Linked DNA regions of Homo sapiens. The protein of the gene in region 3 purifies or fractionates together with the protein of the main gene of each other region. This does not show direct contact. Each region holds a gene or a part of one and is shown on either strand. Other genes may lie near its edges.

Region 1 (3,500 bases), on a different chromosome or scaffold from region 3:
GGCAGGCTAACATGGAAATTTGGGGTGGTCTGGTGCCTTTCTGGTCACACAGATGGCTTCATCTTCCATCCAGTCTGTTAATGCTAACACTACAGAGACCCCACCTGTCCCTGAACAGACCATGCCTTGACTCTGCTTAGCATGAATCTCTCAGACAATACTTATTCTTCAAGAATGTTCATAGTGAAAAAATACCCTTTGCCAGTCTCATAAACAACTTAGACAACTTCTTTCCCAGGACCTAGTGTTCTTATGTTCTCTGGCTTCTCAGGTTTTACAACCTGAAATACACAGGACAGAGCCACACAATAAAGAGTTGTCTGCCCAAAATGCCAGTGTCACCCCTACTGAGAAATACTGCAAGTTCTTCCCCACCCCACCATCAAATTTATGTATTGTGTCCCATTCACTTTCTGCTAAATCTGATAAATTAATCTCATGGTAAGGTGTTAGGGACTAGCGAAAGCTTATTTTATTCTCTTCTAAAGAATGCATTGAATGGGACCTTCCATGCCTTCTTCCAAAAGGAGCAACTCAAATGGCAGATACCCAGGCAAATGGAGGGTTGGTAAGAGAGTTGGTTTGGAAGCAAGAGAGTCTTTCTTTTGGTATCCCATTCCTTCCACATGCCATCCCTGCACCACAATACAGTCCAAATAAAATTCTGAGCTTGTGACCATTGCCACCTTATACCTGCACACCCCTTCCCTATCCTATGGCTAGCCCCTCTATCAGCAGTACAAGAAAGCAAGAAGCTGGAAAGGAAAGAATGGGTGGTTTGCTGTGGATGTCCATGTCCTCCACCTTCCCAGAAGGAATCTGCAAAAGCAGCTCTGGAAGCTAACTCCAACTCAGATTCAAACAGAAAGCAGACTGAATTCTTTCAACCCTTCTTGTTTATACTCCATGCTTCTAGTTAGAGAGCAGTGTCACTAAGCTGAGGAAAAAGTCTTTTAGGACAAATCTGGTTCCCAGCTGCACGGCCTTGTGTGAATAGGAACTTGGCACAGTAGGAAGGGAAAGGTTGCTCTGCAAAGAACTGAGGGGCCTACAATTGCAGCTGGCAAATATTGAGGGCATCATGTGGTGAACATACTCAGCATGGGAAGCATCATGCCAATAAATAGCAACAATTGGCAGGAGAAAGGTTGGGCTGGAGCAGGGAATGGAATGGTCCCAAAAGGAGAAGGTTGCCCAGGAATCATCTTTCTCATCTTAAGAAGCACTGTGAGTGCCATCTTAATATATTCAGTGGGAATCAGAAGGTCTGAATTCCAGGTCTGACTGTAAATTGTGTGACCTTGGGAAAATGGCTCCCTCTATTGAGGCCTCGGTGTCCTTTTTTTGTATTAGAAAAGGATGAATTCGAGTTTACTAACCGCAGGCCTCTGGGTCAGATTTGGCCAGTGGATGTATTTCAGTCGGCCTGCCCAGTATTTTGTTTGTTTGTTTCAACAGTTCGAATGCCTTGTTTGCGTTGACTTTTCCGTTCCCTGCAGTCCCCATATCTGTTATGAGCTTACCACTACTTACCAGCCCCTCCCAGCCATTTCCCATATTTCCAATATCCATCGGGCTCCTGAAGGCCCCTTAACCTTAGAAACCACAAACCAAACTATCTCACAGAGGTCTTATAATTAATGTGCAATTATGACTCCACCCATCAGCCTCTAGCGTCACCCTGGGGGCAGGCAGAGAGGACCTTGGGAGAAAGCAGGGCAGTCTACCATGAACCCAAGCACAAAGTGCAGGTGGGTAAAAAATTAACAAGCGCCCCTTAAGGGAACACTGGGATGGATTTCCTTAAAAAAATCACCTCCTCCCCACCTCCACCCAAAGATGTGGCCCATTGTACATCCGGGGCTTTTTCTGGATCTCCATTGCTTTGACGTCTAAATTGATAATATTCTTTCTTTGAAAAGTGTACAAGCCACACAGGATCATGGGCCAGGCTTTGGCCACTGTTCAGCTTTGATTTTTAAAAGAGTTATTCTTTTATGGAAAGTGGAATCAAGTTGTAGCCCTTCCTATATGATTAGATAAGCAGTTTCAGGAAAACACTTCTTTCTTTTTTTCTTTACAAGGACAGTGTGACTGTGTGGACTTCCCCTTAACAGAAAGCCCCTCCATGTATGTGTCTGGCTGCTGCTGTCTACCCCTAGGTACTTTACTTCTTACAGAGAACTGTGAAGCCAAAGCCTTGGCTCTTTTAGGTCTCCATTGTTAGCCCTCACTACCCCCATTTCTGTCTCTAATACCTTTTAGTGTCAATCGTGAGAGGGCAAAATGTATTAGACTACAGCATGAGGAGCTAGCATGTAAGAGGTAGTAAAGGTCTTTTTCATGGGTAAGGTTCCAGGGCCTCATTGCTTATATACTCATTTCACCTTGACTCATGCCCAACTATGGGACTTTTACAGTGGGCATGGACACATGGATACAGTGGACACTTTTACTTCTTCTCATATCCTAATTCTGGCCTAAAACACACCATTTTGGCCTCAAGATCTCTGCAGAAATAAGGTCCTTTTCACCTGGATCCTCTGGGACTTGCTGTGGGCCTCAGGCGTGACTGATGTTGTATCTCATTGTGATGTCATCAAGCATCAGTATAAAACAGGGCTGATGTTTTACACTGTCCACAGTCTCCTTGGGAGGAGGGGAAGTGGCCAGATGTTGAGGCTGTGAAGGGCACTCTTGATGGACAGCAGGCTGAACTCCAGGTAAGAAACAACAAGACCTCAAACTGTCAATTAGAAAGTAAATAAGCCCCATGCTGCCTAGTGAAATTGAAAGCCTGATAGCGTGGGTGCCAACTCAAATGAAAGTAATCCTCTGATGTATTGAACCTCCTTCTGTCCCACTTGAATACCTGGAGTTAATCCTGGCTTTCTGGTTTGGAAGTCAAACAAGACCATTCTGGGGCAAGAGTTTGTGATTTCAGTAGGTGTGAATGAATGAATTATAAATGGCTGCATTTATAATGCAAGCAAGAAAACACGTTGATGTTAGAAAAAACGGGAGAGAAACAAATAGTTTTCTCTGTAAATGTACTCTTTTCCTGGGATTTTTCCCTCAAAATCCAGCTTTCTGCCTTAGTTTTAAAATATATTGACTTTCTGCTTAAAGGAGAATACATTTGAATTCATCTAGACAATATCTTTTGGTTTTCTAATTGCTTTCCCTCTTTTATTGGCCTGTTAAGGTAAAGCCCACAGTACAAGGAATTAGGAAAATTGGATTCCAGATCTGTCTCAACCGTCAATTTTGCCTTTTATTTTTTAACCTCTCTGGGCTTTGGTTTCTTCTGTAAACTGAGGGAAGTGAATTAAATGAACTGTAAGGCCTTCCAGTAGATTTTATGAAAAATTAGTCTCACCAGACTAAGACAATACAGTTTATTGAACAATAACAATCACTTGAATAATATACATTTACATGAAACCAACAAAACATGTACATAGAAGGTGTGTATTATGAAGGGACCTCAGGAATTACCT
Region 2 (3,500 bases), about 40 Mb from region 3:
GCCCAGTGCCAAATTGGCACCCCAATGGCACCCAAATTGGAGCCTGCAGACACAGGCTCCAGGCCTGCCCAGTGCCAGGCTAGTCTCTATGACCACCCCCACCTTCAGGTTGGCCCCTGCATTCCCACAATCCAGCAGACCCTGGGTCTAGCCCAACCCAGTAGACCCCAGCATTGGGCCGGCCCTCAGAACCCCAGGACTGCCCCTATGGACCTAGGTTCTAGGCTGAGGCCTGTGGCCCCAGGACCCAAGCCAGCCCTAATGAACCTAGCCTTCAGACACATCCATCAGACTCAGCCTCCAGGCCCATTTCAGTGGACCCGGGCACCAGGTTCATCCTAGCACCTGGCCAATCTCTGAAGACCCAGGCTCAAGGCCCAGTCCAGCCCCAGGTCAGCCCTTGTGGACCTAGGCTTTGGGATAGCCTCTCTGCACAAGATACAAGCACCAGGTCCATGCCTGAGGATCCAATCAACAGGTACACCCCAGTGGATCCAGGCTTCAACCCCAACCCCACGGACTCAACACCAGGCCACCCTGCCTAAGGACTCTACCAGCAAGTCTACCTGCAGATCACACCAAATGGCCTACCCAGAATCTCTGGGCAGGCTGACTGGTGAATGGCTTTTCCGGACAAAGCCAGAATGCAAAAACCATTCACCAGCAAAAGTCCCTGCTTCTTCAAATGCACAGATACCAATGCATAGCCATGAGGATCAAGAACAATCAAGGAAACATGTTGCCACCAATGAACAAAATAAAGCACCAGGAACAGACTCTAAAGAAATGAAGATACGGCCGGGCGTGATGGCTCACGCTTGTAATCTCACACACTTTAGGAGGCCAAGACAAATGGATCACCTGAGGTTAGGAGTTCAAAACCAACCTGGCCAACATGGTAAAATCCTATCTCTACTAAAAATACAAAAAATTAGCCGGGCGTGGTGGCAGGCGCCTGTAATTCCAGCTACTCAGGAGGCTGAGGCAGAAGAATCGCTTGAACCCAGGAGGCAGAGGTTCCAGTGAGCCAAGATCAAGCCATTGCACTCCAGCCTGGGCAACAAGAACAAAACTCCATCTCAAAAAAAAAAAAAGAAAGAAAGAAAGAAAAAGAAGACACATGAACTGCCTGACAAAGAATTCAAGATAACTGTTTTAAGGAAACTCAGCGAACTTCAAGAAAATACAGAGAAACAATTAAAGGAAACCAGGAAAACAATAAATAACTAAAACAAAAAATTTACGAGAGATTGAAATTATATTAAAAAAATCAAACAGAAATTCTACAGCTGAAAAATACGAGAATTGAAATGAAAAATGCAATAGAGAGTATCAACAGCAGAACTGATTGAGCAAAAGAATGAACCTTTGAATCTAAAGACAGATTATTTGACAATATACAGTTGGATGAGAAAAAAAGAATGAAAAGAAAGCAAGCTTATGGGATTTATGGGAACTGGAGTTCAAGAAGGAGGAGACGGACACAAAGGGATAGAAAGCTTAAAGAAATAATAGCAGAAAACTATACAAATCTGGGGAAAGTTATAAATATCTGGGTACAAGAAGGTCAAAAGTCTCCAATCAGACTGAACTCAAGTAAGACTATATCAAGAAGTATTATAATCAAACTATCAAAAATCAAAGACAGAGAGGATGCTGGAAGCAGCAAAAGAAAAAAAGTACATCACATTATAAGGGAGTTCTAACAGATTTATCAGCAGAAACCTTAAAGGCCAGAAAAGAGTGGGATAATATATTCAAAATGCTTACGGAAAACAAAAACAAAAACAAAAAAAAAAAAGGTCAACCAAGAATATTGTAGTTGGCAAAGCTCTCCTTCAGAAATGAGGAAAAAACAAAGACTCTGCCAGACAAAAGCTGAAGGAGCTTATCCCCACAAGATCTATCTTATAAAAAATGCTCAAGGGTGTTCTTCAAGTAGAGAGCAAGGGACACTATTCAGTAACACAAATATACATATATATATATATGAAAGTATAGGCTAGGTGCGGTGGCTAACGCCTGTAATCCCAGCACTTTGGGAGGCTGTGACAGGTGGATCACCTGAGGTCAGGAGTTCGAGACCAGCCTGACCAACATGGTGAAACTCCACCTCTACTAAAAATACAAAATTAGCTCGGCATGGTGGTGCATGCCTGTAATCCCAGCTACTTGGGAGGCTGAAATGAAAACTATAAAACATTGATGAAAGAAATTGAAGAAGACACAAATAAAATGAAAAGATGTCCCGTTTATGGATTGGAAGAATTGATACTGCTATAATGTCCATACTATACAAAGCAATCTACAGATTTAATACAATCCCTATCAAAATTTCAATGACAATTTTCACAGAAATAGAAGAAACAATTCTAAAATTCATATGGAACCACAAAAGACCCCAAATGGCCAAAGCAATTGTGAACAAAAAGAACAAAGCCAGAGGCATCACAGTACCTGATTCCCAAATCTACTACAAAGCTATAGTAATCAAAACAGTATGTTACTGGCATAAAAACAGACACACAGACTGATGGAACAGAATAAAAGCCCAGAAATAAATCCACATATTTATGGTCAATTTTTTTAAACAAAGATGCCAAAAAATAAAACACACACACACACAGGTCAAAGGACAAACACAAAAAGGTCAAAGGACAATCTCTTCAATAAATGGTGTGGGGAAACTAGATATCCACATGCAAAACAGTGAAATTAGACCCTCATCTCACACCTCACATTTACAAAAATCAACTCAAAATGCACTGAAGACTTAAACATAAGACCTGAAGCTGTAAAACTACTAGAAGAAAACCTAGGGAAAAAGCTCCATGACATTGGTCTGGACAATGATATTTTTGGATATGACACCAAAAGCCCATGCAACAAAAGTGAAAATAGACAAATGGGATTACTGAAAGTTTCTGTACAGCAAAGGAAACAACAGTAAAGAGACAATCTATGTAATGGGAGAAAATATTTGCAAACCATATATTTGATAATGGGTTAATATGCAAAATATATAAGGAACTCAACTCCACAGCAAAAGAAAACCCAATTTAAAAATGGGCAAAGGATATAAATAGACACTTCTCAAGAGAAGACAGAAAAATAGTCAACAGGCATATGAGAAAGTGCTCAACATCATTAAACATTCAAGAAATGAAAATTTAAACCACAATATCACCACATCTGTTAGAATGGCTATTATCAAAAAGACAAAAGGCAATAATAAGTGTCAGCAAGGATGTAGAGAAAAGGGAACCCTTATATACTATTGCTGGGAATGTAAACTAGTACAGTCACTATGGAAAACAGTATACTGGCTCCTCAACAAATTAAAAATAGAACTATCATATGATCCAGTAATCCCACTACTGGATATATATCCAAAAGATAAGAAATCAGTATGTCAAAAAGATATCTGCACTCCCATGTTCACTGCAGCATTATTCACAATAGCCACACTATAGCATCAATCTGAACATCCATGAATGGAT
Region 3 (3,500 bases):
ACTCTAGGCCAGTGTAAGGACTCTGGGTTTATTCAGCATAACATGATATATTTGAATCCCACCTTGGGTCATGTTGGCCAGGTGCCGTGGCTCACACCTGTAATCCCAGCACTTTGGGAAGCTGAGGCAGGCGGATCACTTGAGGTCAGGAGTTCGAGACCAGCCTAGTCAATGTGGCAAAACCCCATCTCTACTAAAAATTCAAAAATTAGCCAGGTGTGGTGGTGGACACCTGTAATTCCAGCTACTTGGGAGGCTGAGACATGAGAATCACTTGAACCTGGGGGGGGCGGAGGTTGCAGTGAGCCAAGATGGCACCACTGCATTCCAGCCTGGGTGACAGTGAGACTCTGTCTCAAAAGAAAGAAAGAAAGGCCAGGTGCGGTGGCTCAAGCCTGTAATCCCAACACTTTGGGAGGCTGAGGTGGGCAGATCACAAGGTCAGGAGTTCGAGACCAGCCTGGCTAACATGGTGAAACCCTGTCTCTACTAAAAATACAAAAATTAGCTGGGTATGGTGGCAAATGCCTGTAATCCCAGCTGCTCAGGAGACTGATGCAGGAGAATCGCTTGAACCCAGGAGGTGGAGATTGCAGTGAGCTGAGATCATGCCACTGTACTCCAGCCTGGGCGACAGAGAGAAATCCCATCTCAAAAAAAAAAAAAGAATAAAAGAAAAGTTGTGTCATGTCACTGCACTACATAAAGGACGGCTTTACACAGTGCAGTGACATGACCCAACTTGGGTTTTTCTTTTTGAGATGGAGTTTCGCTCTTGTTGCCCAGGCTGGAGTGCAATGGCACGATCTTGGCTTATCGCAACCTCCACCTCTTGGGTTCAAGCGATTCTCTTGCCTCAGCCTCCCGAGTAGCTGGGATTACAGGCATGGGCCACCATGCCCAGCTAATTTTGTATTTTTAGTAGAGACGGGGTTTCTCCATGTTGGTCAGGTTGATCTCCAACTCCCAACCTCAGGTGACCCACCTGCCTTGGCCTCCCACAGTGCTGGGATTATAGACGTGAGCCACAGCGCCTGGCCCTTGGGTTTTAAATATATCAGTCCACCTGAGAAGTGTCTGAAGAGGGTTAAGACAGATCTGGGGAGATATATAGAAAGCTAATACAATAATCCAGGCAAGACACAGTGGCAACTTGGTGCAGGGTATTTAATGTCTTTGTTTCAATTAATTTAATTATAATGTTATAATGCCTCCATCTCAGGGCAGACAATTAGGCAACCCATCTCTACTACAAGATTTAGAATAGGCTGTCTTATACTTGTCTATTTGTTTTTCCGTGCTCCAATATGCTTTATAGTTCCTTATCCACTGTATAAAAGTAAAGCATTAGGGACTCATTAGGCAAGCAATAATGAATGACCAGTTCCGGGGCAGTAGAGATGCAATCCCTGCATTGGATGACGAGGTTGAACTGTTTCAATGTTAACATTCCTTGTTTAAAGTTAAATCCATGCTCAGTTCCCATTCTTACCAGGTATGTCATAAGGAGGTAGCTTAAGAACAAAGATTCCCCCAGAAGCACATGGTAAGGCAAACAGGGCCTCCCCATCACTGCTGAGCCAGGCTGTAGAGGCGGTGGAATTAGGAGATATTCCAGGTACTGCTGGAATTAACTGATAGTTGCAAGGATCTGTGAAATCAACTTTTCCAATGTCAGTGAATATTGACTGCATCTGACTGTCAACTACCAACTCCTGTTGAGTAATTAAAAAGAAAAATCTATTAAATCAAAATAACCAGAATTTTGCTCAGTTCCTCTCTATTGCTAAAAAAGTTTTTAAAGTAAAAAACTGTCAAGTTTAAGAAAGCTATTCTTCTTAATGAAAACTAATTCTCAACTTAAAATGTATGCCTGATCATTTTAAGCGGTAGCTATCAAAGTATGCTTGGTGAGGGATAACGAGAATCCAAATTTCCTTCAATTCCAAAAGACATCGCTCCAGCACTACATTTGTGACACCCAGAGTAATTTGGGAAATAAAAGATATTGCACTTAGCCAACTTACACTCCTATACATCCGGGAGGGGTGTGGTAAAAGTAACCTGTGCACTGTTTGATTGGTTAACATCAAGATTATCACACGATTCTGAGTCTCAGAGACATAAACCCCTCCAGGTAAAACACTGCAATTTTGGAATTTTAGGCGAATGGCATTATTCAACAGATTTATGTCCAGTGACTCCTCCATCAGCTCCAATGTATCTCCAGAGGTCTTCCTGTTGAAAAAGAGACATTTGTTTGAAAAGTTTATGCTTTTCTCACTGACTGTTCTACTGAAATATATGAGAACAGTGTCCAAGTGAACTCACCAAATTTGAAAATTTTGGATAAACAGATTTGGACCACTTTTGCATGCCAAATCACATTATGTACATTTATAAAAAACAGCATAACAAAATCCAAATTTCACTGTGATTCTGTTACATAGAGACATTTCCAAACTTGATAGGCCATTTATTTAGGACAATATTTTATGCAATTAACTCTACTATAATAAAAATTAACACCATACCCCGGCCATTGCTTGTAGTGGAATGTGGCCTCCATATATACTACAGCATCAAACAAAACTGACCTTAATAATTGCGGTTATTTCCTGTTTCTATTACTTCTTAACCTGCAATAGCATGCATGCGCACACATATACACACACACACACAGAATAGCAATTTTATACATGCGCTTACATGTATGTGCAAAAATATTACAAAAATAAATATTTTAATATAAAAATACCTTCGCAAATTGAACATATCAGGGTTAGTTTCTATACTAAGCTATTCTAACTTTCATTATTACTCCTCAAAAGGAGCTTGTTTATTTATTTTTTTCTTTTTTCCCCCACCCTCCCCAAAAGGAGCTTGTTTATTAATCCCAGCTGAGGAGCAAGGAGCCACTGGCAGCCACAGATCTCACTGCTGCACAGGGTTTTTAGAACTTCAGCCATAAAAATGGGCAGAATTTTCCTTGATCATATTCGTGGTACCTGTCCATTTTCTTATGCAAACTGTGATACAATCCTGACCAACCGCTCAGAATTCATCTCCACTTGGTTCACAGGCGCCACTGGCAGAGCATTTCTTTTTAACAAGGTAGTGAACCTGCAGTACAATGAAGCTCTAGATTGGGTCATGCTCACTGGCCACCACATGGTCCAACATGTGAGCTGAAAAACTGCAGCAGCAAACTGGGATGGATCTACGAGTTTGCCACCGAAGACAGCCAGTGTTACAAGGAAGGCCATGTGATCCTGGAACGTGCTCTAGTTCGAGAGATTGAGGGCTCTAAGGAGCATGTACCATCTGATAATTTTTGTTTGTTTGTTTGTTTTTTTTTTGAGACAGGGTCTCACTCTGTCAGGCTGGGGTGCAGTGGTGCAATCATAGCTCACTACAGCCTCGAACTCCTGGGCTCAGGCAATCCTCCCACCTCAACCTCCTCAGCAGCTGGGACTACAGGTGTGCACCACCACACCTGG
Region 4 (3,500 bases), on a different chromosome or scaffold from region 3:
GATTTTCATTTGTCATAAGAGAAGTATTTTAGGTGCCACTAAAATAATTTGTCAAATATTTTAATATTAGCTAAATGATTTGCAGACTACTATTGTTTAAACTGACCTTATTGGCTATAAAAAGAATGAAGGCAAAAGAAATAAAATCAGCTCTTGCAGAAAGTTTCTGGAGGAGGCTAATATTGAAAAAACTTCTGTTTGCTATTGATAAGTATAATTACTCATGTCCTTGTATAATCGTCTTCCACCAGTGAGACCACTCAGGCGGGACCATCAAGGTTCAAATGAGGCATTGATGATTAGAGCTGAGGAATGACATGAAACAGGTTATGAAGAGTAACCCCAAATATGCAGGAGGAATGGGGAGATGGTGCATGGGAGACTGTAGTCAAATGACTAGGTTGGTATGGAGAGTCTAAGTTATGTATTAATATGGGACGAGGTAGGTTAAATTAAGTGATGACAGTGAAAACCTGCATCTCATATAATTGTCAAGCAAAGCTACCATTAGTTCTTGAGCAAAGATGGCAAAACAATAATCATGAAAGAATAAGTTGCTATATGATTTTCAGTGTGCAAGTCTTTAACATTTTTGGTTAAGTTTATTCTTAAATACTTTATTCCTTTTATTGTTATTGGGGATGGGATTTTGTTTTAATTCCTTTTTTGGATAGTTTGCTGTTTGTGTACAGAAACCTGACTGATATTTTATATGTTGATTTTTGTATCCTGCCTCTTAACTGAATTCATTTATTAGTTTGAACAGGTTTTTTTGTGGCACTTTTAGGGTTTTATACATATATGATTATGTCATCGGCAAACAGAGATAATATTACTTCTTCCTTTCTGATTTGAATGCCTTTTGTTTTCTTTTTCTTGTTTAATGGCTCTGATTAAGACTTCTTGTACTATGTTAAGCAGAGGTGTTGAAAGTGGCCACCTTTGTCTTTTTCCTGATCTTAGAGCAAAAGTTCTCAGTCTTACATGACTTGGTATGATGTTAGCTGTGGGCTTTTCATAGATGGCCTTTATTGTGTTGGGGTAAATTCTTTCTGTACCTAATTTGTTGAGAGTTTTTTTTTTTTAATCACACAAGGATGTTGAATTTGTCAAATGCTTTTTATGCTCTATTTTGATGATCATGTGGCCTTTTTATATCACTTTGTTAATGTGGTGTATTACATTGATTGATTTACATATGTTGAACCATCTTTGCATGCCAGGGATAAATCAGAATTGATTAGAATATACAATCCATTTAATGTGATGGTGAATTTAGTTTGCTAGTATTTTGTTGAGGATTTTTTCATCTGTGTTCATTAGGGATGTCAGCCTGTAGGTTTTTTTTTTTTTTTTGTGGTGTCTTTGTCTGGTTTTGGTATCAGGGTGATGCTGGTCTCATAAACTGAGTTTAGAACTGCTTCTTTTTTTAAAAAAGAATTAAATCATTTATTGATTACACATGATAATGTAGAACTGTTTCTAAACTCAGGATTGGCATTAATTCCTAGAATGTTTGATAGAATTCATCTGTGAAGCCACCTGGTCCTGGGATCAGTGATGGGTCATAGGCCACTGATCCACCTACCTTTGTAGGCACAAAGGTGTCCTACACAGGGTAGAGAGATACTGTCAGCATGATTTGAATCTCAGTTTGTGCTTTCCACTGCCTCAAAACACTCACACTTTCCTACTTTCTCCTTTTTCTAACTGACTAAGTTTCCATCACATTTGCTTTCTTTCCTATAGAGTTTCAGCCGTCTCAATGTCTATGTTTTTTTCCACATCAGACCAAACTGCTTCCCCATCATTGAAATATTAAGCATCTTGGATTTCTCAAACTTTTATAGTCTGAAAATTGCTACCCTCGAGTGACTTATTAACTTCCATCTATTTGTATTTATTTATTTATTTATTTTTTGAGACCGGGTTATGAGACTGGCTAATTTTTGTATTTTTGGTAGAGATGGGGTTTCAAGGATGGTCCTGGGCTCAAGCAATCCCCTGCCTCAGCCTCCTAAAGTGCTGGGATTGGTAGTGTGAACCACCACACCTGGCCTGCATCTATTTGTAATGTTCCAAACTCTGGTTATCAGAAATTAATTGAGATTAAGGATTATGGCATCTGCTTAAAGTTGTCAAAGCATCTTTTCAGAATATGCCCAGTAAGTGTTCTTGACCGATTATGTTAATGTTTCTATTCATTCTAGTAGGGGCTGTGTCCATTTTAATTTTAAGTTTTCTACCTCTTTTCTTTCCAGATTTTTTTTCTTCAACGTTTAACCTTTGAGGTTTACTGATTGTTGATCAAAGAAACTGAACTTTCAAAAGATCAACTACAGTGATTGGAGAAAAAACTTTCATGAACTCTTGTTTACATATATAACTTTCAGATAGGGCTATTTACTTTTTTAACTTTCATTTTCTTATTTTGAATTTTTAATATAAGTGGCACATAATTGCTGGTCATCTGAATAGAAGGATGGGATTAGTAAATTAAGATTACAAAACTATTCACTAGGAAATCATAGTGCCACAGCTAAGAGAATCTTCCCAGATATTTCCTCTGGGACGATGTGAGGTATAGGATTGACAAGGAGGAAGGACAGGGGAATAGAGTGCTGTAAGTTATAAATACATCCGTATATAGATGATACATCTTATTTATACAGATTATAAATCTTGCCTGTAGATGGCTTGTGGGAGGTTACTGACTTTGAGACTCTGTGCTCCTGAGTTGGATTATAAAATTATTGAAGAAAGGAAATAAATTTTGCTTATTTCCTTGGCCTTTTATTTCTGTCAAAAACCAACCAGTTTGCTCCCAGTCCATTTGGATTCCAGAAGAGTTTCAGGTTGTAGACAAGACAGTTTTTTTTTTTTTTTAAGGATTCCATTAATCCAGAACCTTCTGTCCCACTCCTATGAATTTAGAATAGATATAAAGCTTGTGGACATGAGGATTGTCTGAACTGGTGTGCACTGGGCTGACAGATATGTCCCTTTCCATGACATTGTGTGGTGAACCTCAGCCTTTTATTATCTTTACCTACATGGAAAGTAAAATGTCCATGACAGTTAATTTATATGATGGAGCAACACGACCAGAATCCCAGAGCACCGTGTCACTGCTCACAAGCTAAAATAACCTCTACTCAAACAGATCAACCACAATTTTCAGCCCAATTTAGTTTTCTCGGTGAAACTGGGTATCCAGATGAAACATAGTTTCCAGCATCACAAGTGAGTTGATTACTCAATCATGGCTATTATGTGGTTGAATCTTTACTTTACTGTTGCCTCTGCCCAGATCATTTTTTTTAATGATCTATTGCATTCAAAAAAATGCAACCGGTCAGTTAATTTGTTTTGTAAGCCCTAGTATTGATCTATTCATTTTTTGAACACACAAAAACCTAGAATGTTTGCCTGCAGTCATTTTTTATACATACTATTATTGTATAGATAAGTAAGATATTGAATAATAGTGATAAGTTATT
Region 5 (3,500 bases), on a different chromosome or scaffold from region 3:
CCTGGAGTCAGACAGGCCTGGTTTTGAGCTGGACTCCATCACTTACTAGTTCTATTACCTTAGGTAATAGGAAGCCTCGGCTTCCTTTTTTTGTAAAATGGGGATGTTAACATTGTCTCATAGGGTCATTGTGGGGGATCAAATAAGACGATATATACAAAGCTCTCAGCACTGTGCCCTGCATATCAATGCTGTAATTACTCCAGGATCCAGAGGAAGAACCTATACCCCTCGCGCTCTCTGGGTTTCTGCACGCTCTGCCCAGTGGCCTGGCACCTCAGCTTTAGAGGGCAAGGTAGAGCCAACCATTAATCAGATAGTGCTGGGACCGGCTGGGGTTTTCTGTGGCATCCCGTATCTTCCCATCAGAAGCTGGAAAGGGAATGAGGGGACTGCGAGAGTAGTGAGGGGTCCTAGATACTGACCTTCCTTCTGTGTTAGATGTTTGAACCCACAAGATGTTGGGGTTGGCCAATGCTCCCAGTACAACCCAGGTGGTAGGAATGACACTCTGAGTCTGTAGGTGCTGGCGGCCAGGCTGCCCCCGGGCACACAGCACCAGAGGAAGGAGATGGGCACTTAATACAAGGTTTCCAGTGCAGGATACCTTGGCACCTGGCCTGCCCATCGGGGGCAGAGCAGGCAATGAGAGCTGCTGCTCTATGCTGGAGTGGTTGAGTTCTGAGTCTACAGCCAGAGGACCTCGGCTGTGTGCTCGATGGCCTTAGCTAGGAAGTCACTTCATCTTGCTGTCTCAGTGTCATCCTCTGACAAGCAGGGATAATAATCCAAACACCAAGAGCTGCTGAGGATTACGTAAGGCACAATGCCCAAGGCAGGCCTGGCAGTGTCACACACACAGGACACGCTCAACAGATGGCTGCTCTGAGCTGTAAGCCCACAGTGACTTCAGATTCCTCATCCTCTGGGCTCCAGTACCTTCTAAAGGCTGCTGCCAAAGGGAGGATACCCACTGTGGAGAGCACCGACGCAAGCTCCACCAGAATCCCTCGCCCCGGTGGACTTGTCCTATTCTGGGGGACACTGACTGCCCACTGTGGGAGGGCCCCAAAGGGTGTCAGCCTCAGCCTCGTGGGACTGAAACGGAACAACCTCAAAGTCGTATCTGATATTGACTCGCAGGCGTAACAGACCCTCATCCAGCCTCTCTTTGAACACCTCCAGGGACAGGAGGTCAGCTCCTCTGTGGAGCGGCTCTGATTGTTAAGAGCTCTTTTCTCCCAAGCAGAAATCTGTCTTCCTGTCATTCCCACCCACTGGGCCTGAATGGTCCACGGGGACCATGCCAACAAATGCACCCCCTCTTCCCCAGGATGGCCCTTCAGATTTGGAAGAAAGGATCCCCTAAGTCTTCTCTTCCACAGGTTAAACTGCCTCTGTCCCCACCAAGTCCACCAGGCTCCAAGACGGCTCTTCGGAGAGCCCACCCCAGGCCTCAGTTGAAAAGGGAAAAGAAAGAGCTGGCAAGGGGGGAGTAACAGAGGAGAGGGGGTGGAGGGAACATCAGAGGGGCCATTTACAAGTGAATGGGGGTAAGAATGGAGCAGTTTGTGGGCTAAACTGGCCTCAGAAGGAGGTTTACAGATGTGCGAGGGGACCTCCTCATTGTTTAATTAAGCAGAAAGTGGATCTTTTCAAAAGCAATTTTGCACAGGGACTGGGAGGGGTGTGGGGAGGAGGGAGGTGGAGAGGGGATCAGCAAACAGGCCCTGAGAGCAGAGAAAGGAACAGCTGGCCCCAGAGAGGCTGTGAAATGCATGCTAAGCAGTTTAAAGCGCCCAGGAGCTCCTGCAGCTCCTGCCCTCCCTCACCAGCCACCCTTTAACACAAGTGGAGCAGGCAGAGGGGGCACAAAGGCAGGACAGGGGAAGACAGGCAGGGAAAGGTGAGGCGGCCATGTCTACACTTGGGGCCTGGGCAGGGGGCCTTGGGTCAAAGGGATGCTTGAATCACAGAGGCCAACTCCCAGCAGCCGCAATACCCTAAGCTGGTGGGTGCCTGCATGGCCGTTTCAGCGAGATGGCTGTTAAGACATCCCTTCTCTCACACAACTTCTTACTGGGTCAGCACACTCTGCTTCACCGAATTGTATATACTTGGATCTTGAAGAAACTTTTCTTATAGATGTCAAAGAGACAACCAGCTCAATAACATACAGAGCGAGCCCAACCTCCCATCTTACAGATAGGGAAGAAAGAGTCTGGCAGGAATAAGTGATGTGCAACTGCGCGTGCCAGGCTTCCTCTCTCGCAGTCTCACTCCCTCAGGCCTTGCTCATCATTTCTCCCAAATTGGCTGGGTTGGAAGCTCTCCCCTGGCCTAGGAGCCACGAGTTCCCTCATTTGTGAGGCTTGTCACATTCTGAAATCTTACGGCTGCTATTATTTCTGCTGGAACCTCCAAGACTCGCTTGGCCAAGTGGCAGCCCCTAGGCTGGGAAGTCTGCCAGATGACATATCTGGGCATGGACTTGGGGGAAGGGTAAGACTCTCCTAGCAGCACCAGGCCCCTGACCCCCAGCTGGGCTCACATGTGCCAGGGTGAGGCCTGGCAGCTGCTAACCAGCTCTGTTGGTGACCTAGGTCACCAACCTAGGTTACCATGGGTCTGCTGTGTGACCCATGCCTCTGGGCACAACAGGAACCAGGTGTAGGGACTCACAGCAAAGGAGCCAAAGACTAAGTGGGCCATTGTGCCTTCCCTCCCACTCCCCTCCTTTCTTCCCAGAGTGGGGATAGGCCCCTGCCTGTTCCCTGAACAGTGGCTGGAAGATGAAGGATAAAAAAATCTGAGTCCCAGCCCAGCCTCCCTACTTGGGTAACTCTGGGCAGGCCTCAGGTCCCTCCCTCCTTCTCTTTCTCTTTTAGGGGTCTCTTATCTCTTGGGGTCATCTGAAAGTTGAAATAAGTAGTTGTTGAACTCATGAATAAATAAATGAAGGAAAGCGTAAAAACTGGAAAATGTAAGATGTTAGAGTAATTCAGGGAGCCTCTTGGGATAGACGGTGATGGGTTAGTGGCAAAGCGCCAGGACTCTGAAATTCAGTGGCCTGAAAGCTAGTTCTGAATCCCAACCCTGCTATTTAAATAACTCTATGACTTGGGGTGAGACCCCTGACTTCTCTAAATTTTGGTTTCTACCTTTTATTTGTTTTGTTTTTTGTTTTTGAGACGGAGTCTTGCTCTGCGCCCAGGCTGGAGTGCAGTGGCACGATCTCGGCTCACTATACAACCTCCACCTCCAGGGTTCAAGCGATTCTCCTGCCTCAACCTGGGATTACAGGTGCCCACCACCATGCCCAGCTATTTTTGTATTTTTAGTAGAGACAGGGTTTCACCATGTTGGCCTGGCTGGTCTCTAACTCCAGACCTCAGGTGATCCGCCTACCTTGGCCTCCCAAAGTGCTGGGATTACAGGAGTGAGCCACTGCACCTGGCCTTGGTATGTTACCTCCTTAAAGAGACCTCTGCTGACCACCT
Region 6 (3,500 bases), on a different chromosome or scaffold from region 3:
CTGTGACACACCGAGGAAAGCTGAACAGTGGTGACATCCCTCTAGAAAAGACTTCAGAAAGACAGGCTCACTCCTGTGCCCTGGCCAAAACCAGAAGCCAAACCCAGGGGAGCCATGAGATAACTTTTTTAAAATCAAAAAGCTGACATTATATGAGTTTAAGCCTTCTTAAATTGATACTTTATGATTCTGATTTATAAGTCTTTCGTGTTTCAACTAAGTGCAACTTGATCCCCTTTAAGCAGAGATACACATTCACAGAGAGAGAATGTTTTAAAAAGACCCACAAGGGGAAGGGAACAAGTAAGTGCTCTTAGTTTGTTTTTATTATACAAAAGTCAGGTAAACTAAATGATTCAGAACAGTTTGATTTCACTGAAGGCTTCTAGAAAAATTCTCAGCAGGATTCCACAAGGGGGCTTGGTGCACATGAAGCAGTTATGGAGATTACAGTCTCAGTGTAGGCATCTGCAGGAGCACATGTCGGGAGTAATGTCTGTCAGAGGGAGACATTGCTCCACCTGTTCCTTCGAGGCAACGGAGAGGCAAAGCCACCGCCAGCACACACAGTGACTGGAGCAAAAAAGGATTTCAAAAAAAAGAACTAACCACAAACCAATGACTCATCAGCCAAAACAATAGGCTAGCGACACACTAGTGTCCACAGGAGTCCACTACTAACAACAGTATACACTATCAAACGGGTACAGAGAACAAACTAAGACTTAAGGACACCCAAGACATCTGTGTGCTGTGTATGCAGTGGAGAGATACAAAGACATACCAGGTACTAAGACACAAAAGCCCAGCCTAAATTCTCCCCTCACAACATCCTAATGCTCAGCATCCCGGCCAAGCCAGCTCAGCTACATGCTAGGAACTAAGCACTTTGGGGATTTAAATGAAAAGACATAGGAGCAAACTTGGAATACTTTTAGTGCTCTGGCTGTGCACTCGAAAATACAAAATTCTAATGCAAGAGAGCCGAATCAAGAATACACCAATCTACTCCCAAATTTAAAATAAAAAGCAGGGGAGGGAGAATCGCAATAGCCAGGCTAATCTTTTCAAAGCATGACACTGTAGGCACCAACCCAAGCACCTCACACCACGGGCTGTTTTTCCTTTTGGAGTGTGGGTATTCCCTGGTGTCTGATTAGTAATGTCACTTTCCAGCCCAACAAGCTGGTAACATGCAAAGGGTTGCATGGAGGTGTTTTAGCGACAGTGCCTCCGGCATAGCTGCCATGCCTGCAAGTGGGAGCAGTTGAGATTCACAAGGGGGCAAAATCCCAGGAGCCCTCTTCATCTGTCTCCCCAAATCCACTTTCACACTGACAAACAAAAGAGCCTCATGTCTCCCCACTCTCCTGGACTGAATCACTATCTGCAGCACCACTCTCCCCTACAGGTCAGACAAAAAAACGACTTGACCCCTAACAGGGAAGTCAGGGGAGAGGGAAAGAACAGAATTACAGAAAAAAGATACAGAAACCAAAGTAAATGAGGATTAAACAGCAAACTGAAATCCAAATTAGTTGTGAAAGTGAATGAAGTAAACTTGAAGAAAAGTGTTAACATTATGAACTGTGCATCGTATAGACTGAAGCGGAGATTAAACAAACTCCAAAAGCATGCATATCGCTCACTTACCACCATGTTTTAAGGGTTTGATGCAATTGAGGGGGGAAAAAAAAGAAGTCATAGTAACCGACAAATATCAACATACCCCAAACCCTCAGGCCAAAAGATAGCCAGCTTAAACAATGACTGTTCTCTCCACCTCAGTATTACAGCCACTGGCTAGATGAGAGGAAGAGGACTGGGGGGATAATGGAAACAAGATGCTTCTGGAATCCACCTTATGAGAGTGAAGTTACCGGTGGAACTGTAGCACACACTGATTTATCTGCGTGTTCCATCTTCCCAACCGAATGGACCACAGCCCTCACTCCCCCTATATCCGCCTCATCATCTAGAAGGGGTGCTCTGCAATGTCTAGTAAATAACGGATTGCCTAATACAATATCACCTCCAAAAAGATGGCTTTAAAGTCCGAATAATGAAGAGTTGACTCTCTGGTCAAAGGTCCTTTGTCACTGCATTCATCTCACTAGAAGGTTTTATGGTTTCTAAATCCACTTAAATTTTGCCTGACCTTAGCAGGTTAGCATTAAACCCAAGAGAGACTGAGTTACTTCCTATTTCCTTCCTTGTTTGGTCCTATTGCATTTTCTCCATGAGGTAACTTGTTATTGACCCAGATGGCCCCTAGTTAACAGACCAGACACCGAATGCATGTTTTAGGTGTCATTTTAAAAGTCACATTTCTTTTCCAATATCCCTAGTCTGTATAAAGCTTCATATGCTACCAAATGTTTTGACCAACGAATAGATTTTGGAACATTAGAACAGCTCTTCATTCTAAAGTGTCTAAAAGAGCTTGGATATATCAGAGCCACTAAAAATGGCCCCCCAAAAAACCTCAAATATCTTCTCCATCAGTAACTTAAAGAGAGTCCCTTTGACTTGCTTATAAAAAATTATCCCAAGGTAAAAACAGAAAGTTCTTTTTTGGTACCAGCACTTCTTTTCTTAAATCAGCTCCTGTTTTAATTTGCTGTCTGTGAGGTCACTAAAATATCCAGAAGAACTGCAGGCCTCAGCAACTAAGTGGGTTCACTCCCCATTCCTCCAGGGCCTGGGGAGGGGAGACTCAGGAGCACAGGCTGACTGCTCCTGGAGTGCAGTCCGCAGGACACCAACACAGAAGGTGCACCCAAGCAGGTGCCCAGCTGTGACATGGATGGAAGCCTAGAGGCTGCTAGCTTGACCTGGTCTTTTTAGAGAACTATCATTTAACATTTTCAGGGAATACAGTCAAGTGGTGAGTCAAGTGAACAAAACAAAGCTCTTATTTGACTCCATGATTCACTTGTTCCTGAAAATACTGAAGGTAAAGGTGATCTGTAGATTAGTCCACCTACAAGACAACCTAGTGGGCACTGATCCTCAAAGAGACCATACAGGGGACTAAAGGAATGCAGGTGGGTGTTTTCATGTAGGAAATGGTCTGAGAATACTCCAGTAGGTAAAGAAAAAAGACATGGGGCTTTTTTTTTTTTTTTTTTTTTAAAGGAAGCAGCTAAACCTCAATCCTAAGCATTTTCAATGTGAGAAATCTAAATATTTGATTTTCTAGTGAAACATACTTAAACTAAACTATGTAAGTTCAAATTTGTGCTTTTATACTTTTGTATTGTTCACTTAGTGCTTTTGTAGTAAGGGGATGAGTTACCAAGAACTCACAGACTGCCCAAAATATGACGACTGTGCATTCATATAAAAAAAGTTCAGTGAGTCTGAAATGAGCCATGGGTGTATCTTGATAATAAAGTGCTATTTGGCAAAGTAGAAGTATGGCAGGCCTATAAAAAAATTCCCATTTTCCTAATGGTATAAAAAAAATCCAACACAGAGCCACAGATGGTTATCTGATA
Region 7 (3,500 bases), on a different chromosome or scaffold from region 3:
ATGGAGAAACCCCATCTCTACTAAAAATACAAAATTAGCCGGGCATGGAGGCGCATGCCTGTAATCCCAGCTACTTGGGAGGCTGAGGCAGGAAAATGGCTTGAACCCGGAAGGCAGAGGCTGTGGTGAGCCGAGATCGCACCATTACACTCCAGCCTGGGCAACAAGAGCTAAACTCCGTCTAGTCATCATAGTTGTAAGAATATCTAAAAGTGAATGTACAAACTATCTGCAAAATGCCTCGGAAATGTATAATGAATTGTGAGACAAGAAATAACAATGGCGGCCGGGCGCGGTGGCTCATGCCAAGAATCCCAGCACTTTGGGAGGCCTAGGCAGGCGGACGCACCTGTGGTCAGGAGTTCGAGACCAGCCTGGCCAACATGGAGAAACCCCGTCTCTACTAAAAATATAAAAATCAGCCGGATGTGGTGGCAGACACCTGTAATCCCAGCTACTCTCCGCAGGCTGAGGCAGGAGAATCACTTGAACCTGGGAGGCAGAGGTTGCAGTGAGCCGAGATTGCGCCACTGCACTCCAGCCTGGGTGACAGAGCGAGACTCTGTCTCAGAAAAACAAACAAACAAAAGAAATAACAATGCTACTTTCACTATAATTCCATCTTCAAAGAGGCAGTATTCTTCAGAAAACGTTCACCCAAATCTAAACTTACAGAATTGCTTAAAGTCAACGCAAGGAAATGAGGCACAGGAGGCTGGGGTGAGGAGAGAACATAAATCACCCAGCCAGGTGCTACTACCACTGATTATTATTAACATAAATTTGTGTGTGTGTTTGTGTGTTTGCCTAACTGTTTAGTTTGACTGTCTTACTCAACAACTTACCTAGATAACAGTCAAGGCTTGCTTCATGTCCTGCTGTGTAAGTGTAAGGAAAGTATCCAAGTCTTGACTTTCTTTTTTTTTTTAAGACAGAGTTTATAGTGGCACAATATGAGCTCACTGCAACCTCCACCTCCCGGGGTCAAGTGATTCTCCTGCCTCAGCCTCCTGAGTAGCTGGGATTATAGATGCACACCACTACATCCACGAATTTTTGGATTTTTAGCAGAGATGGGGTTTTACCCTGTTGGCCAGGCTGGTCTCAAACTCTTGACCTCAAATGACCCGCCCCCTGTCGGCCTCCCCCAAGATTTTACTTTCTTATCAAGTAAGTAAGGCACTAAACCTCTACTAGGTTTTCCCTATCAGTGAATGAGTAAGAATCTTTTAGACTCAAAGAAAAAAATGTTTTTATTTTGAGACAAAGGTCTCACTCTGTCAGCCACACTGGACACAGTGGAACAATCACAGCTCACTGCAGCCTCAGCCTCCTGGGCTCGGGCAATCCTTCTGCCTCAGCCTCCCAAGTAGCTGGGACCACAGGTGTACACCACCACCCTGGCTAATTTTTTAAATTATTTGTACAGATGAGGTCTCACTATGTTGCGTAGGCTGGTCTCAAACTCTTGGGCTTAAGCGAGCCTCCCAACTCTGTCTCCCTATGTGCTGGGATTATAGGTGTGAGCCACCATACCCAGCCTCAAAAATGTTAAGGCTCTCCAAGAACACTTTCACAAAAGCATATAAAGATGGAGAAAATGTAAATGTCTATCTTTGCAAAGTTCATCCTATAATTTCCTAACACACAGATACGGAAAAACCAGGTAGATTTATACAGAATTACAGGTGGTGTTGCTTTCTACAGGAAATAACATCAGTGATACAGATTTCAAAACCCCACCTATTAGACATAGGGCAAAATAGGCTGGGCGCAGTGACTGACGCCTGTAATCCCAGCACTTTGGGAGGCCAAGGCAGGTGGATCACCTGAGGTCAGGAGTTTGAGACCAGCCTGGCTGGTCTCAACACGTCTCTACTAAAAATACAAAAAAATTAGCTTGGTGTGGTGGTGGGCACCTGCAATCCCAGCTACTCAGGAGCCTGAGGCAAGAGAATCACTTGAACCAAGAGGCAGAGGTTGCAGTGAGCTGAGATCGCACCACTGTACTCCAGCCTGGGCAACAAGAGCAAAACTCCATCTCAAAAAAAAAAGAAATAGGGCAAAACAAAAACTTTCCCTTCACATTATGTTGCAGTTTTGCAAGTGAACAGACTTTAAAACGCTAAGAATTAATGCAGTATTATTTATAAATCAAAGATTATGATGCATATAATAAACATTCTGATAATGCATGCACAAAACGAGTGGTTATTAATGCATATCTGAGCATTCAAAAATGACATATTAAAAGATGAGTTACATAATCACTGTTTGTATAATTATCGTATTCAAACTCCCCTGAAATTAAAGACCTTAAGGACACCTCTTTGACTTCATTATTTAAAACAACTCACAAAATTCAACCATATTTTATATTGTACTCCAAATAAAATTAACCCAATTTAGTCAAAGCAATACTATAGAAAATTAAATCAATAACTACCCTTAGCATGCATATAGTGTTTATCCTGGTTTCTCTTAAGGCAATGGCCAAAAAAAATAAAATCCTAGAAAAGAAATTCCTCCTACATTTTCTTTATATTCCATAAATTACTTCCTAGAAAATCAAGAGCAAATACACATTACTGAAGTCTATTTCTGATTATACTTCCTTATGTTATTCTACAGACAGAGATGGATTTCTAATTTATAGAATACTTTCCAGAGTATTTACCCAGAATGTGCTTACTACATAACAATCACTGTTAGTCACTCTGGAATTAGGTTTGTGAGTATATAGTCCTGTTACTCTCCAATTCTCTCATACTGGCAAAATATACAAGTTCAAAAAATCACATTCTTGGAAAGCAGAGTTCTTGGAAAACTGGCAACACTAGCAGACTTCACTTTTAAAAGTGAGAAAAAGGATACAGAAATGGCCAAAAAGCACAGGAAAAGATGCTCAACATCACTAATCATTAGGGCAATGCAAATAAAAATCACACTGAAATACCACTTCATACCTATTATAATGACTACTATCAAAAAATTAAAAAGCAGAAAATGAGTGATGGTGAGGATATAGAAAACTGGAACCCTCATGCATTGCTAATGGGAATGAAAAATGGTCCAGTTGCTGTGGCAATATGTATGGCAATTCCTGAAAAATTCAACATATGATCCAGCAATTACACGTCTGGGTACATACCCAAAAGAAATGAAAGCCAGAACTTAAACAGGTATCTGTACATCATGGTCACAGCAGCATTATTCACAATAGCCTGAAGGTGGAAGCAACCCAAGTGTCCACCAATGAATTAATGGATTAAAAAGTATATGGTATGTATATACACTGAAATTATTCAGCCTTAAAAAAGAATGAAATTCTGACACCTGCTACAACAGAGATGAACACTGAAGACACTTGACTAAGTGAAATAAGCCAGTCACAAAAAGACAAATATTGCATGGCATCACTTATAGGAGGTACCTAGAGTAGTCAAATTCATAGAAACAAAAAACAGAATGGCGGTTGCCAAGGGCTGGTGGGGGAAACA

Evidence for each region.
Region 1: the proteins of NUP160 (region 3) and VSIG1 purify together in Homo sapiens (co-immunoprecipitation; one large-scale study listed by IntAct). This does not show direct contact.
Region 2: the proteins of NUP160 (region 3) and RIC3 purify together in Homo sapiens (co-immunoprecipitation; one large-scale study listed by IntAct). This does not show direct contact.
Region 4: the proteins of NUP160 (region 3) and CD226 purify together in Homo sapiens (co-immunoprecipitation; one large-scale study listed by IntAct). This does not show direct contact.
Region 5: the proteins of NUP160 (region 3) and URM1 purify together in Homo sapiens (co-immunoprecipitation; one study listed by IntAct). This does not show direct contact.
Region 6: the proteins of NUP160 (region 3) and NPTN purify together in Homo sapiens (co-immunoprecipitation; one large-scale study listed by IntAct). This does not show direct contact.
Region 7: the proteins of NUP160 (region 3) and PPP2R5E fractionate together in Homo sapiens (co-fractionation; one large-scale study listed by BioGRID). This does not show direct contact.

What each region holds. Positions count from the first base shown.
Region 1 is NC_000023.11:108,062,065-108,065,564, forward strand, and holds part of VSIG1 (V-set and immunoglobulin domain-containing protein 1 isoform 2 precursor), read left to right. Parts: intron 1-2,645; coding exon of another isoform or gene 2,646-2,723; intron 2,724-3,500.
Region 2 is NC_000011.10:8,113,526-8,117,025, forward strand, and holds part of RIC3 (protein RIC-3 isoform a precursor), read right to left. Parts: intron 1-3,500. UniProt on the Homo sapiens protein: Molecular chaperone which facilitates proper subunit assembly and surface trafficking of alpha-7 (CHRNA7) and alpha-8 (CHRNA8) nicotinic acetylcholine receptors.
Region 3 is NC_000011.10:47,838,351-47,841,850, forward strand, and holds part of NUP160 (nuclear pore complex protein Nup160), read right to left. Parts: intron 3,338-3,500; exon of another isoform or gene 2,894-3,337; intron 2,239-2,893; coding exon 2,028-2,238; coding exon of another isoform or gene 1,878-2,027; exon of another isoform or gene 1,716-1,877; coding exon 1,493-1,715; exon of another isoform or gene 1,151-1,492; intron 1-1,150. UniProt on the Homo sapiens protein: Functions as a component of the nuclear pore complex (NPC). Involved in poly(A)+ RNA transport.
Region 4 is NC_000018.10:69,888,874-69,892,373, reverse strand, and holds part of CD226 (CD226 antigen isoform a precursor), read left to right. Parts: intron 1-3,500.
Region 5 is NC_000009.12:128,381,374-128,384,873, reverse strand, and holds part of URM1 (ubiquitin-related modifier 1), read right to left. Parts: intron 1-3,500. UniProt on the Homo sapiens protein: Acts as a sulfur carrier required for 2-thiolation of mcm(5)S(2)U at tRNA wobble positions of cytosolic tRNA(Lys), tRNA(Glu) and tRNA(Gln). Serves as sulfur donor in tRNA 2-thiolation reaction by being thiocarboxylated (-COSH) at its C-terminus by MOCS3.
Region 6 is NC_000015.10:73,563,890-73,567,389, forward strand, and holds part of NPTN (neuroplastin isoform b precursor), read right to left. Parts: exon of another isoform or gene 3,049-3,500; intron 1-3,048. UniProt on the Homo sapiens protein: Probable homophilic and heterophilic cell adhesion molecule involved in long term potentiation at hippocampal excitatory synapses through activation of p38MAPK. May also regulate neurite outgrowth by activating the FGFR1 signaling pathway.
Region 7 is NC_000014.9:63,533,378-63,536,877, forward strand, and holds part of PPP2R5E (serine/threonine-protein phosphatase 2A 56 kDa regulatory subunit epsilon isoform), read right to left. Parts: intron 1-3,500. UniProt on the Homo sapiens protein: The B regulatory subunit might modulate substrate selectivity and catalytic activity, and might also direct the localization of the catalytic enzyme to a particular subcellular compartment.